Regions from separate parts of the Homo sapiens genome. Here region 2 is linked to region 1. A link means that fine-mapping ties the variant in region 1 to the expression of a gene that starts in the linked region. Tissue or cell type: whole blood. Region 1 holds a variant in brackets; the other region holds the start of a gene. All regions are shown on one strand. Distances are from middle to middle.

Region 1 (7,499 bases):
TTTGTCAGAACCTCGGTATTTCTGATGCGCCTGGAAGCCAATATCCAAGCCGTTCTCAGCCACTGGATTGGTGGGCTGCTTTGCTCAGAAACTCCTCGATCAGGAATCCCAAGCATACGTTAGTGATGACGGTCCCAAAACAAGGGACATTTCTTAACCATTCTAAAAACCCGTTTGCTCATCAGTAACGCAATAAGAGTTGCTTTCGGTCTTGGTTCATATATTTTATATTTGAGCAAGGCAATGTCCGCTGCTGGGGTTAGAAGTAAATGGCTCGTCTTCAGCAAACTAGATCAGTCCGTGGGACGTACGGCTTCCACTCGCAGTGTCCTGAACACTGGCTGGGCTTCCTGTGCGTTCTAGCCGGTTTTCTTTGGAGCCGCGGGTTTCTGCACGGCTCCGGGGTCGGGATGGCAGAGGCTTCTCGGAACACGCGGATCTATGAGTGCAGTCCCCGGGGTAGCCACCAGGGAACGCCATAGGCTTTCCCGCTGTGTTCCTCCTTGCCTTTTCCGTTTGGGCCCAGTAGTTTCTATTGACCATGACATTACAGATCAGAAGTGGGTGGGGTCAGAAAGCACACCCTGGGAGAAGCTGGCAAAATGCCCAGAACCGCCATCACTAGGCCTGGGGTTTTCTTCTGTAGTGGAATTCTCGTGCTTATGTAGTACAGGGAGGAGCGCAGCGCATTTCCGCCAAGACAGGTGAGACTGCAGTTCTGACCTGCGGGCCTCGATGAACTGCGTTAGGGCCCCTGGGCGCCGGCAGAGCCGATCTCCTACACAAAGCAAGCGTGTTATGTCTACAACCGAACGGGGACACTAAGAAAGAGCCCCAAAGGCCCTGCTTTCATCCCAAAGAACAGCGCCTGTCTGCGTAGTTTCTACCTTGCTCTATGAGGTGAGAACACCTTCACCGCTGGCACAGAAATCCTACAAACTCCTGTGGGGACCGCGGTTACAAGCAGACGCTGTGTGAAAGGTGACTCTGGGGGCTAGGGAAAAACACGAAGATTTTCACAGAGCGTGAGACCCCAAGAGACTGGAGACCATGGACCAAATTTCTGCGAACAGTAGCCTTATGTAGAAAGAGCTATGCAATCTTCGTGCTAGTTAGCTTGTGATACACATGCTCACAAAGGCTGGCGCTTCCTTCTCCAGCGAAAAGCAAGGCGATATATCACTTCCCGATTCAAAGCATCCAACTGTAAGAATAACAGTGTAGGGAGAAAGGTCTATAGTCATGGCAATATTGCCTAATGATATTTTTTTCTGTGATGGTCATTTTATAATATTATTTAAAAGTTTTTTTTAATTAAACAAGCAATGGAACTTTGAACAGAAAAATATGAAATTAAAACAATAAAAATTACCCATAATCACACTAGACTGTGATAACTAAACTGTGAATATTTTGGTTTCATAAGCTTTTAATCTTTTTCCTTAGGTATATAAAAATATTTAAGAACCAAAGAAAATTATATCACAATGGGTATATCAACTTAGTATCAGTTTTACTCATTTAATATGCCAAAGGTAACCTACTTATCCTTTGACTATAAGAGCTTTCTAAATGTCTGTATAATATTACATCAGATGAATGCAATATAATTTATTTTAAATATTTCTTTTTTTGTTGTTTTTTTTTTTTTTTTTTTTTTTTTGAGACGGAGTCTCGCTGTCGCCCAGGCTGGAGTGCAGTGGCGGGATCTCGGCTCACTGCAAGCTCCGCCTCCTGGGTTCACGCCATTCTCCTGCCTCAGCCTCCCAAGTAGCTGGGACTACAGGCGCCCGCCACTACGCCCGGCTAATTTTTTGTATTTTTAGTAGAGACGGGGTTTCACCGTTTTAGCCGGGATGGTCTCGATCTCCTGACCTCGTGATCCGCCCGCCTCGGCCTCCCAAAGTGCTGGGATTACAGGCGTGAGCCACCGCGCCCGGCCTAAATATTTCTTATTGCATATTTAGATTGTTTCTAATTTTTGAGTATGATCAACAACTCTTTGACCAGTATTCCTATAGCTAAGTGCTTATGTTGTAGGTCTGATTATTTCCTTAGTACAAATTTCTAACAGTGGAGTGTCAGTCAAAGGGTATGTACAATGTAAACATGTAGATGTGTATTGTCAAATTATCCCCCACCAAGTTCCTAAAATATGCATCTTTACTGTCATGGTGTAACTACCAAAGTCCTGTACCCTTGAAAACATAGATTCTTATTTCAGAACATCTTTATCAGTTTAAAAGATAAACTATGCCATCCTCTTGTTGTTAGTAAAGTGCATTTCTTTGATTACTCCCCTTTTACAGAAGAGTAAATGAAGATTCAGTAAGTTTGTGTGAGTTATGCATGGGTGCATAGGTAACGCGTGCAGAAAGCAATCACTTCAGTTTTCCATATTTGAGGTCCTCTCTGGGCCAGTACAGTTCGAGACACTAGAAATTCAAAACCACAGATAATGCCCTCCTGGGCCTGTAGGATGTACTTGTTAGGTGGCAGGGGCGAGGCCCAACCAGTGTGCACAACAATGTCATAGCCCCAGGTGAGTGTGGGAGGGGAAGTTGTAGAAATATTTTCCAGCCAAATAAATCAGTGAAGTAAAGATAGGCAGGAGGCAGGCAAAAAGGAGGCAGGACTGGCAGGTTGTGGGGGCAGGAGTGGCCACGGATGAGGAGCCAGGCTTGGCTACACAGGTGCAGGTGGCACGTGTCATAGGCACAGGCATGGAGATCTGAGGGCGTAGAGGGGAGAAGACCATGCACCGCCAATGTCAACTGTGTGGAAGCAAACCTGGGCTACATCTAAGAGTCCTGAGAGCAGGGGAGGAGAAGGGAGGAAGAGACAACAGAAGTCCTGGGTGGGAAGCAGAAATATTTCCTGAGTCAATGAAAGAGCCCCAAGCCTCCAGACCTGCCAGGGCTCAAGCAGGCAGCTCCAGATGCCAAGACCTATAATCCAGCAGTTCAGGTTGATTTTGCCAGAGTAGTGTGAAGAGGCCCTGATTTTCCCCTTTAATGTATACCCATACAAAAGGCAGAAGAGTTGTTTGAAAAGCAGGAGATTCACAGTTACAAGCACATAGGAAGCACAAGAAAAACTGGTAGAAGGGATCTGGGCCCTTCAATGTTGACAGCCTTCTCTAGGAGCCCTGGCTACAACAGAATGAGAAGGATCCTTGTGGGGTATAAAAAGGTGGGAAGGAGAACAAGCCAAACAAAACACCACCCTCAGGACTACAGAGAAGTTATTTCAGGCGATGCATTGATTCCATGTTTTTGTTTCCATAGGTTGCTGTTTTGTAACTTTTTTTTTCTTTGGT[G/T]AAGGAATTAAGTGTCCTCCCCCACTGTCTGAAGAAAGTTATGCCTGTCATGAAGCGTGCCCTTACTTACTTTGAAGGGGACAAGCCTTTTCTAGCTTCAATATTTATTTCCTATTTTGATGGGGAAACCTTTAGGGAAGTAGAAAGAGAGCTTAAAGCCTTGGGGGAGACATTTTACGTGCTTGCTAAAAAAATGCATTAAAATATTTAGTACATGTCCTGAATGTAACCCAGCCCTCCAGAGCTATTTTTTTCTCACTGTATTAGTCCATTTTCATACTGTAATAAAGAACTGCCTGAGACTGGGTAATTTATAAAAGAAAGAGATTTAATTGACTCACAGTTCAGCATGGCTGGGGAGGCCTCAGGAAACTTACAATCATGGTGGAAGGTGAAGGGGAAGCAAGGCACCTTCTACACAAGGTGGCAGAAAGGAGAAGTGCTAAGCAAAGGGGAAGAAGCCCCTTATAAAACCATCCGATCTTGGGAGAACTCACTCACTATCATGAGAACAGCATGGGGGAAACCATCCCCATGATTCAATTACCTCCACCTGGTCTCTCCTTTGACAAATAGGGATTATGGGGATTATGGGGATTACAATTCAAGATGAGATCTGGGTGGGGACGCGAAGCCTAACCATATCAGGGGAGGGGGCTCACAACTGAATATTTCAGATAATTTTAATATGTGCTGGTATCCACAAACAAGAGCCAACGTGGACTCAGCAGGAAATGTCATGGGCCTTCTGTTTCAAAAATGATTCAGATAGACTTTTATGCTTTTACATGTGCCATATGGGAGTGGGGCATTCTCATCTTGTTCCTTGTTTTACCCTCAGCATCTACCTTTCATAGCAGTAACTGATGATCATGAAATGTTTGTTGATTGAATGGCTGAAGTATAGACAGATGCAGCTTCTGTCCATGAAAGGCATCCTGCTTGCTCCTTGCACTGTGTCCAGTGAAAACTCTTGTTTCTCTGCGCAGCTGCAACACGTTTCACATCACAAGGAGCACAAGGCACTGGCTTCCATTTCCACCCTGAAGCTCAGCAGCCCCATTTGCGTCCCATCAGCTGCCTGCTCCGGAATAGAGGAGGGAAGGGCTGGGCTTCAGAGTTTGCTTTTTTTTCTTGGTTCTGTGAATGGAAAAGGATCCTGTGAAGGGATCCAGATTGATACCTTGGGGTCTGGTGTATGTAGGTCTGTTTGTGTTAACTCACCATTTAAAGACAGAAAAAAGGAAAACATACATATTTATAGCCTCCTAGAGAGAGCCTTGGTGCTAGTTTTGATGGCTTGCTGGGAACACAAGTGAAGTCAAGGGGGGTATTGTGGTTGGGAGCATTGATTTTGGGAGGAAAGTGGTGCTGGTATCATTTAGGGAGGGACAACAAGATGCTCCTGTGGACCACCACTGATTCTCTCACGCTGATGACATCTGGCAGTAGTGACAATGTGATGGGAGCCCAAAGAGGGGAGGGTCTTGTAGAAATTTCACGTGGTTGCATCAACTTCAGCTTTTGGTAACTGGTGGATAGCCAAGCAGCAGGAGTAGGGCAGAATACCATGAGTCCGTGAACCAGGCAGAGAGTTGAATGACATGAACTTGAGTCAGGGAGGAGAAAACTAGGGGCCGGGCACATCTTTGATTAGTGAGTAACCAACAAGGTGGACCCCCAGAGGGCTTAAGGCCCTTCGCTGGAGAACTAGATGGTTATCCCTGGGTCCTGTTATTGAGGCTAGCTTCTCTCAAGTTTCAACGCTAGTCAGACCACCATATCTAAATCATGGAAAGTGTACCACTGGTTATGTTAAGAGGTGATGTTTGAATATTTAGATGGAGATAATCAAAGTATTACAAAAATGACAAAGGATTCAATGCAGTAAACAAGTTAATTTACACACCAGAGTCAAAATTTCACAAATATTATTGCATAGAGTGAAGATAATTTTTTAAAATTTAAATTAATTTAACAAAATAAACATAGTACTTAAATGTGGCTTTTTTGGTTAGATTATTTTCTTATTCAAGATTTTTCCTTTCCTAGTTTATAAGTATTTTGTTGCTATTCTTTCACTCTCTGAAAATTGCAAAATGCATACTTAACTTTTCAAATACAAGTTTTTCCAAAAATTGTATACATCTCCTGAAAATGAGTGCCTTTGAAGATGGCAACTCCATTTCTGCTCCCTCTAATTCATGAGTTATTCTTGACTTGTTTTGTGGAATTAATTAGTTTCATCTTTTTCTTAATGGCAAAAACTACTTGTCATGATTTTTGCATGTTTCCTACCTTCTTGATCCTCATCTTTTTCTCTGATTTAATTACATCCTTTTCTGAGGATATGCTGCAGATAAACTCTCTTTTTTTGTTTGCCCAAGAATGTCTGCATTTCATCCTACTCTTAAAAAGTGGGTCCTAGAAATTCTAGATTGGCAATTATTTTTTATTAGCACTTTGGTGATCTGATTCTTCTGGCATCCGTCTTTCATCATTTCTGTTGAGTAGTTAGTGGTCAATGCCATTCTGCTGCCTTGAAAGTAAGCTGTTTTATTCACTACCTTGTGGATTTATGCATGTGTGTGGTTGTTCTTTGGTTTTACTATTGTTTTTGGTTCGTCCAACTCGCCATGACATGTTCAAGTGTAGTTTTATGTTTGTGTACCCTCTATAGATTTAGGAACTTCCCGTTGGCTTTCTTTTGATGTAGGGTATCAGTCATTATCTTAAAATATTACTTACAAAGGTTTTCTCTGTTCTATGTTCTTTCTCCTCTTTGTTTAGGAATCCAAGTAAAAATATGGTAAAATGTCTCACTGCCTCTGTTTTGCTGTGATGCATTCTGCATAATTTCTTCTGACTGATCTTTGGATTCACTAGTACCTACTTTAGCTACTACAAAATAGTGAACAGCCATTGCATTTAAAAATTTATTTTTTGCATCTTTCTATTTTAGAAATGTTCTTTGTTTCCTTTTTCACACATTCCAGTCATTTAAAAAATATTTATTTTATTTTAGATTCAAGGGGTCCATGTGAATGTTTGTTAAATGGGTATATTGCATACTGGTGGGGATTGGGCTTCTAGTTCACCCATTACCCAAATAATGAATATTGTACCTAATAGGTAGTTTTTCAACACTCACATCCTCTCCCCTTTGGGAAACCTCAGTGTCTATTATTTCCATCTTTATGTCCATGTGTACCAATTGTTTAGCTTCCACTTGTAGGTGAGAATATGCAGTATTTTATTTTCTGTTTCTGAGTTAATTCACTTAGAATAATGTTCTACACCTCCATCCATGTTGCTTCAAAGGACATGATTTCATTCTTTTTTATGGTGGTGTAGTATTACATGATGTGTATATATATCACATTTTCTTTATCCAATCAATTATTGATGGACCCATAGGTTAGACTTAGGTTGGTTCCGTGACTTTGCTATTGTCATGGTATTGTCCTATAATGATTTGTTTTCCTTTGGGTAGGTGTCCAGTTATGAATATTTCTGGGTCAAAGGGTAGTTCTGTTTTCAGTTCTTTGAGATATCTTCATACTGTTTTCCATAGAGCTTGAACTAATTTATATTCCCACCAATAGTGTATAAGCGTTCTCTCTTTGCTCTGCATCCAAGTCAACCTCTGTTTTTTTCTTTTTTCAACTTTTTAATAACAGCCATTCTGACTGATATAAGATGATATCTCATTGTGGTTTTAATGAGCATTTCTTTAATGATTAGTGATTCTGAGCATTTTTTCATGTGTTTGTTGGCTGCTTGCATTTTTTTTTTTTTTGAAAAATGTCTGTTCATGTCCTTTGCCCAGTTTTTAATGGGGTTGTTTCTTTTTCTCTTCTTGAATTCTTTGAGGTCCTTGTAGATTCTTGATATTAGTCCTTTGTCAGAGACATATTTTGCAATTCTGTTTTTTTTTTTTTCAAGCATGGCAAGAAAGATTTTATTCAGGACCAGAGCAATAGTTACAGGGACCACTGAAATGTTGTCTGACAGTGGGGAAGAGAGATTCTATGCTGGTCATTTTTAACAGCTTTCTTTTATTATTATTGTTATTATTATTATTATTATACTTTAAGTTCTAGGGTACATGTGCACAACGTGCAGATTTGTTACATATGTATACATGTGCCATGTTGTCGTGCTGCACCCATTAACTTGT
Region 2 (7,499 bases), 320 kb after region 1:
AAATCACTGCGCAACTGCAAGGCATTATTAAAAGAAATCTTCCTTTTAATTCCTGCTTCCACAAACATCTCATCACATATCCTTGGGTTCCTGGGTTACATGGAGAGATTCGTGGTGTAGCTCAATCTATGTGTCATAGCTATCCCACAATCTCTTCTTCAACTTCTCCAACACACCAAGACATTCTTCCAGTCTTGCATTGTTCCCCAGTTTATATAGATATATATGTTCCTCATTCAGCATTTATGTAAAACATATATTATTGAGCACTTATGTGATAGAAACCGAGGCAAAACAGAAAATAAAACAGAGTTTTATTTTGAGAGTTTTTTTTACAGCTTATCGGCTCTGAGAGGACAGACATGAGAACAAATAAGTGCCCAATTCTGCATTTATTTTGGAAGGCAGTTTTATGTGAGTTTAAATCAGTAAAGACATAGATGTATATTTTTAGTTTTGATTAAAACTAAAACAATTGGTAGCCCTTATTCATATTTTTCTATCATTAAAACTTATCTTTAAAAAATGTCTTCAGTCATATTTTTCCCTTACTTCCATTCATATTTACTCTTTACTTCTCTTGTCCTTACCAGAATGTATGCAGTAAGTTTTCATATTGTAACATATTCAACAAAAGTTATATGTGAACATAATAGCTGCTTTCTTTAAAACGGTTACTTTGAGAAACTGCATACCTATTTTTTTTTTTTTTTTTTTTTTGAGACGGAGTTTCACTCTTGTTGTCCAGGCTGGAGTACAGTGGCACGATCTTGGCTCACTGCAATCTCTGCCTCCTGGGTTCAAGTGATTCTACTGCCTCAGTCTCCTGAGTAGCTGGGATTACAGGTGCTCGCCACCATGCCCGGCTAATTTTTGGTATTTTTAGTAGAGACGGGTTTTCAACATGTTGGCCAGGCTGGTCTCAAACTCCTGACCTCAGGTGATCTGCCCACCTCAGCTTCCCAAAGTGCTGGGATTATGACATAAGCCGCCACGCCTGGCCTGCACATTTATTTTAATAATGTTGTCATAGCTACAGTCGCTTCTAGAGTTGCTCTTTGGGGATAACTATCTTATATTCTTCTGAATATATTTTAATAGTGACAAAACTTATCTTTGCAGGTGATTTTTAAAATTTGTATGCAGCCAAGTCACTATGAATTATCTTTAGTGAGTAAAGAGGAAGATCGAACTGGTAACACTGTGGGTAAACAACTGAAAAATAATGTTATCTTTCTCTGAACATACTTGCACAAGACAAATTCCAAAAATATTTTGACTACATTATTTTTGAAAAGGGTTTCCAGTATTTCAATGTGACTACTTTCACTAATGGTACTTGCTTACCTAAAGTGCTTGTTAACATGCAGTTTTGGAACTTCATAGGTCTATGCCCATACTGACTTGTACTTGCTTAGTGTTGTTTCACATTCTAGTTCAACATCTATTATGTGATAGACACTGGGGATTAATAGGCTGTGGTCTTTGCCCATGAGGACCTCAAAACTTAGTTGAGAACACAGAAATACAAAGAGTCCTGTGTGAAAAATAAGTATCGGTGTTAAGATAAAGAAGCGGCAGTGGAAGACAGTGGAGGGACTGTCTGTTAGGGGGAGGAATTTATTGCGGTGTCGGCAAAGCCTTCTTTGGACTGAAGGATGAATTATGATTAGAAGTTCATTAAGAGGAGGAGGGAAGGGGACTACAGGAGTCATTCCAAGCCAAAGGAACAAAAGATACAGGGACAGAAACAGCAAGATATGTTTGGGGGAATCTCAAGTTAGTCAATACTGTTATTGTGTGAAGTTCACAACAGGGGCAGGGAGGACAGGAGATGGGGCCCAATGACGAAAAGGCCTTGTATGTACCATGTTTAGAAGTTTGAATTTTATCCTATAGGAGTCAGGGAGAGGTTCTATGGGTAGGATTTCCCATCCCAACAGGATTGTAAACTCCCACATCCAATTAGTCACACCTCCATTTTTTTTTTCTGTTTCTTTAACATTGTCTCGGATTCATTCCTTCTGAAATCTACCTTATTAGTTCAGGTCTTCTTAAATTTGTGCCTGGACTGTTCACCAACTCTTGACTGGTCCTGGGGCTCCAGTTCACCTCTTGCTCCCCCAACAATCAATTTTCTACAGAATTATCAGAGCAATCTTCCTTTCCATCAATCTCAACTCTGTTCAAAAACTTTCAATAGTTTTATGTGACCTAAGAGGTAGCTGCCTCCCCACCCTTTCAGCTTGCCATTCAAGGCTGCATAATTTGGTCCCAACCCCCTTTCCGTCCTTGACTCCTCTCACTGCTAACAGAGACAGAACTCATTTACTTACTCTTTTGACTGTACCTTTGCTTTCACGAGGGCTCTTTCCTGGAATGATATGTCCATACAACTATTGTTGCTGTTCTTACTTTTAGCTCTTTTCTTAGAAGCCCACTTGTACCCAGGTTTGATCACACCCCCTACTCTCCTGCCCTGGAAGTAACTACTATTCTGGTTATAGTCTCTTAATATCTATATCTATATATATGCATCCACAGATAATGTGTAGTATTGTCTTGAAAAAAATATACATAAATGGTATACTTTGTCTCCCTCTGTGATTAGTTTTTTCACTATCATTTAGTTTTTAAGATTTATCCCTATTGACATAAATAGCTATAGTCTTTTCAATTACTGTGTTGCATTTCATTTTATAAATATACCATACATTATTCATCCATTCCTCTAAGGGTGGGCATTTATGTTGTTTTCAAGGTTTTGCTATTACAGTGTTACAACGAATATCCTTAGCTTAGCTGGTCTCCTTGTCTTATACAAATTTTACTGACCTTTCAAGATCCTGCTTTCATCCCAGCTCCTCTGGGAAAGCCTTCCCTGAATCCCCCAGCCCACAGCGGCAAAGTCTTGGTACTCAAAGTTGCTTGTGCATCTTTGGTATCATCCCACTGCCAAGCACACAGCTACGCAAAGTAAGGCACTTAAGAAATATTCGCTACACGGATGAACAAATGAATGAATGAATGGGGCAGCACCACTCCGTGATGGCTCTATTCCTTTTTAATGGACTTTGGCGCCTTGGCCCACTTTCCTTCTTTGACAGCACTGGTCCTACTCCAGAGCATTCCTCTAGCTAGCAAAGCAGTGTGTGGATGTGTGGGTGTAGGTGGCGATACAGACCTCACTGGATGAGGACCGCCTCTCCCTGCAAGTTCACGATCCCGGCAAACTCCAGTGCTTGAAGTTCAGAGTCCTACCCCACCCCCCTCACCCCCACGCCCCTTCTGCACTGGTCAAGCCAGCGAGCCGCTGCAGCCCTGATCGAGTTAAGGCGCGGCGGCCCCCGGGGCCGCTGGAGAAGGATGCGGACGGGGCCAGTGACTCGTAGTAGATCCCTCCGCGCGGAGCTCGGGCCGGCGCTTCTTCCTGCGGGAAACCCCTGGGTGCCCAAGGCGGCGGGGCCGAGGCCGCGGCGACAGTGGGGCGGGGCTTGCGGTGGGAGGAGGCGGCTGAGGCGGAAGGACACACGAGGCTGCTTCGTTGCACACCCGAGAAAGTTTCAGCCAAACTTCGGGCGGCGGCTGAGGCGGCGGCCGAGGAGCGGCGGACTCGGGGCGCGGGGAGTCGAGGCATTTGCGCCTGGGCTTCGGAGCGTAGCGCCAGGGCCTGAGCCTTTGAAGCAGGAGGAGGGGAGGAGAGAGTGGGGCTCCTCTATCGGGACCCCCTCCCCATGTGGATCTGCCCAGGCGGCGGCGGCGGCGGCGGAGGAGGAGGCGACCGAGAAGATGCCCGCCCTGCGCCCCGCTCTGCTGTGGGCGCTGCTGGCGCTCTGGCTGTGCTGCGCGGCCCCCGCGCATGGTGAGTATCGGGCTGAGGGGCGCTGTCCGCGGCGCCCGGGGCTGCCACCTGGGGCGACCCTTCTCCCCCTCGGTCCTTCTCTGTGTGGGAAGGCCAGGCTCGGCCGCCGGCGCGGAGCGAGGCCACTCGCTGGGTTCCCAAGAGTTTGGACATCGCCGGGGGCCCCTCCCGTGGTGCCCCGCCAACCGCCGGGGTTCCCCGCCGCCTCTGCTCCCCGCGGCCCGGGACCCCTTACACGCCTCCTCGGCAGGAGGGAGGCCGGCAGCAAGTCTCAGAAACTCCTTTTTCGTAGTGCCAGGGTGCAGGGAGGTGGGCAGTTTTGCCCTTCAGGTTCCGCGTTTCTTGGGGTCGAGCGAGAGCCGACGGCGGGCCTCGGAGGGGCTGAGCGAAGGAATGCCAGATTCTGGCGTGGAGAGCGGGGGCAGGGCCGCCAAGCCAAACGGCCTGCACCGTCGCAGCCAGCCTCGCCTTTGCCAGGGGGCGGCACATGGGCCGGGTGTGTGGGCTTGGTTTGGATGGGGACGGGGTTTTGCGGCGCGCCTGAGTTTTGACACTCCAACCCCACCGAAAGTCCGGGGGAGCCGTGTGTGCTGCTCGCGTCTTTGAAAGGTGGAGGCAGGAGAAGTAGGGCAACTGGTGTGGCTGCATGCTGAGGCACATGATTTAAAAATCTCAACTGCTGTTATTCTTTCCGAGGCGCGGAGCTCTGCTGCTGTTTCAGGCTGTGTCCAGACCCAGGAATGTGGTGTGACGATCACCAATTCCTCCAACCTGGCAGCAGCATTTGCTGCTCCTTTGGCATGGCTGGGGGTGGGGCACGGGCGGGTGAGAAAAAGTGGATACGTTAATTCAAAGGGCTTCCTTAGAAAGCTTCTTTATGGTTGGATGTTTCTAACACGGTTGGACCAAGGAAAGGGAATCAAATCATATCTTCCCCATCCCACCCACACTTTTAGATTCTACATTTCTTCAGACCCTTTAGTGGAAATAACTTGGGCTTTGGAGCCCTGCTCTGTAATCCTGGATTCAAATCCAGCTCTGCTATATGAACTCACCAATAAAATGGGAAAGAAATTATCCAGCTAATAGGATTAATTAAAATAATGTATATTAAACGGATGACACTCCAAAGGTGTTCAGAAAGTCCTTTCAGGGCCGAGGCTGTGTTTTACTGCTTCTGAGATTGATGCTCCCAGTGGGATGCTGTCTTGTGCATATTTGTTGAACGGAAAGCAGCCCCTTCTTTTTCTGAGCCTAATCTGAATAAAGATTTTTACCTTCACCAAAAAACTAGTACATGAACTACATCTGTTTTCAAAGAAAAGGTTAGGAAGATGATGAGCTTCAGAAAAATATGGTCTTTGTTCATTGTTAACAGTCAGTCGACATGTCAATCGCAGATGTTTAAAAAGAGAACAAGGTTATTTATCACCCGAAAATAGTACTGGGTTGTTCAGCACCAACTAGATACTTCTTGGAAAGTTCAAATTTCGTACACGTCTAGGTCACTAAGAATTTCAGAAGTGGACCAGGAGGCTTTGTAGTGATGAAGCAGAGCCGTTGTTTCTGAAGCATTTAATAAAGAGCATATATGATGGTGTTTTTGCTTTTCCTTTTTCTTTGAGTGAAAGCTTTAAGTGTAGCTTTAGGATAGAGAGGAGTATGATCAATGAGACAGTCTGAGGGTAATAATCCTTGGTCTATCATTAACTTGTTTTGGTAAATAACTTAATCTTCATGATATGTAGTCTCCTCACCTATGAAGCAGGACTAAAGGAATAACCTGCTTTAGAGAATTGTAGGGAATAATAAATATAATTGTAAAGTGATTTGAAAAATTAAGTATTAAATAATATGATATCAGAAATGGGATTACTCTGACACATAGGGCTTCTTTTATTATAGGATCTCAGTGCATAAAACTATGCCCTCCACCTCTGCTCTGCTGAGGTGCTGCGATTATTAGCTAGCTTTTAGGTAGTCAAGTTGAGTGTTAGTCAAGTTGACTCAAAGGATAGGATTTAGATATTTTGATTTTTAGACAGGTGTTCTTTAGATGCTAAACTAATGCAGTAGAAGAGATTTAGAAGCCGTTTCTCGGTACAAATCTTAAATCTTCTTAGAGTCTACAGTGAAGGCTTCTTGAATCCTCTTAATTTATTATTGTGTTTTGCTAAGGTACCAGTTGCAGCACACCCTTCTAAACTTTTGAGTGTTCCTGTGTTTGGCTTGTGGCCAATTGTTAATTTAAACATCACGGAGTTTCTAAGGCAAGGAGATGTTAGCAGTATGTCTGATTGTCTAAACAGCTATCCAGGACCATCCTCTTGCTCCTTGTTTTCTTTTGCTTTGCAATGGGAAGTGACTCCCTGATTTTGCTGCCTGCTAGATAATTTCTCAGCTGAATTCTTCTCTTGCTTAAACAAAATCGGAGTAATTTTCTTTCAGATGGTGATGAAATTTAACCTAAAACTATTTTTCCTTTCACTTTCTTATTATTCCTTTTTTTTTGGTGTGGTGGAGAGGAGGAGGAGAGTGATTCCTAGTCTCTCTTATTTTTCTGAATGTTTAGATTTAAAAAATATTTACCCATAACTTCTTGGGATCTCTCTGCTCCATTCCCACCCTACTGCCTCTCCTGTAGGCTTCTATGACATAGAGGAGCAACTTTTGGTTCACCTGGATTGTAGTTGCTGACTTCAGGACCTTTAGAGAATGTTTAAATTCAGTGGGATATGCTTGGATGGTTCAGAGCAGCCTTACAATACATCTTAAAAATATCACACCCACAGAAATTCTATTTTGCCCACAAAATTTGCATTGATCTAGTTCCCACTCTGTGTTGCCATTCCTAGTGATCCTCCTCCCTACCTCTCCCATTATGGTAGAAAAAACTCTGTGTCCTGGCTACATCAAAATCTGTTGGGGTGGATCTTGGACTCAGCACCCAGGGATTCTGATAAGGTAAGTTTGAGAATCCATATTTTTTCAAGGTTTACAGGTGATTCTGACAAGTAACTTGGTTGCAACCCACTGATTAAGTACATTTTTTTTTACCTTCAGGTGTGTGTATGAGGTCTTTCTAAATTTAAGAAATTTCCATAACAAATGTAACCTTAGTCATTCCAGTGTTTAACGCTTCTGACTCAAGGAATTTAAAAATTGCTAACGTAAGAGATATAGAATATAATGTCATTTCTTCTATTTATCTGGGTGCAATATGTCTGCATTGACCCTTTAGAAGGGCTTCATATATTTAGATGATATAATAAATTCTCCACCTCTCCTTTTCCCTTTTCTTCTGTTATCTCTTTTTCCTTAAATGTCATTCATACATGTTGTTTTTTGACCCTTTATCTATATACGTCTGCAATGATTTTAGAGTAAAAAACTGCAAGGCGTGATTTGAATAAGGATATAAGAAATTTTACATCATTTTCTTTATATTGTGTTCACAGTCCATAGTTACATGCTTCCTTTCTTGATGTCTCAGTTCGAATGCCTAAATTTGAACTATTGATTTTCCTTCCACCCTTTCCTGATTTTCCTGTTTTTGTTTCTCCCCCTTTCTCTGCAAATGACTTGAAACCAAAAGGTCTTCTTTTCTTTCTTTGTCAGCCTACCGTATGTGTAGTAT

Evidence for each region. PIP is the estimated chance that this variant, and not a neighbour inherited with it, causes the effect.
Region 2: it holds the start of NOTCH2, and the variant in region 1 is fine-mapped to the expression of NOTCH2 in whole blood (INTERVAL, PIP above 0.99).

The regions. Positions count from the first base shown.
Region 1 is chr1:120,381,991-120,389,489 of GRCh38, reverse strand. No RefSeq gene overlaps it. Among named protein-coding and RNA genes, the nearest start is that of NBPF8, 29 kb to the left of the region's middle. The variant G/T (reference allele first, on the strand shown) is at 3,320.
Region 2 is chr1:120,065,697-120,073,195 of GRCh38, reverse strand. NOTCH2 (notch receptor 2) reads left to right here and starts at 3,534. Exons shown (of 34, transcript NM_024408.4): 1 at 3,534-3,862. The coding sequence starts at 3,790. LOC101929178 (a long non-coding RNA gene) reads right to left here and starts at 3,368. Exons shown (of 2, transcript XR_254374.4): 1 at 3,185-3,368.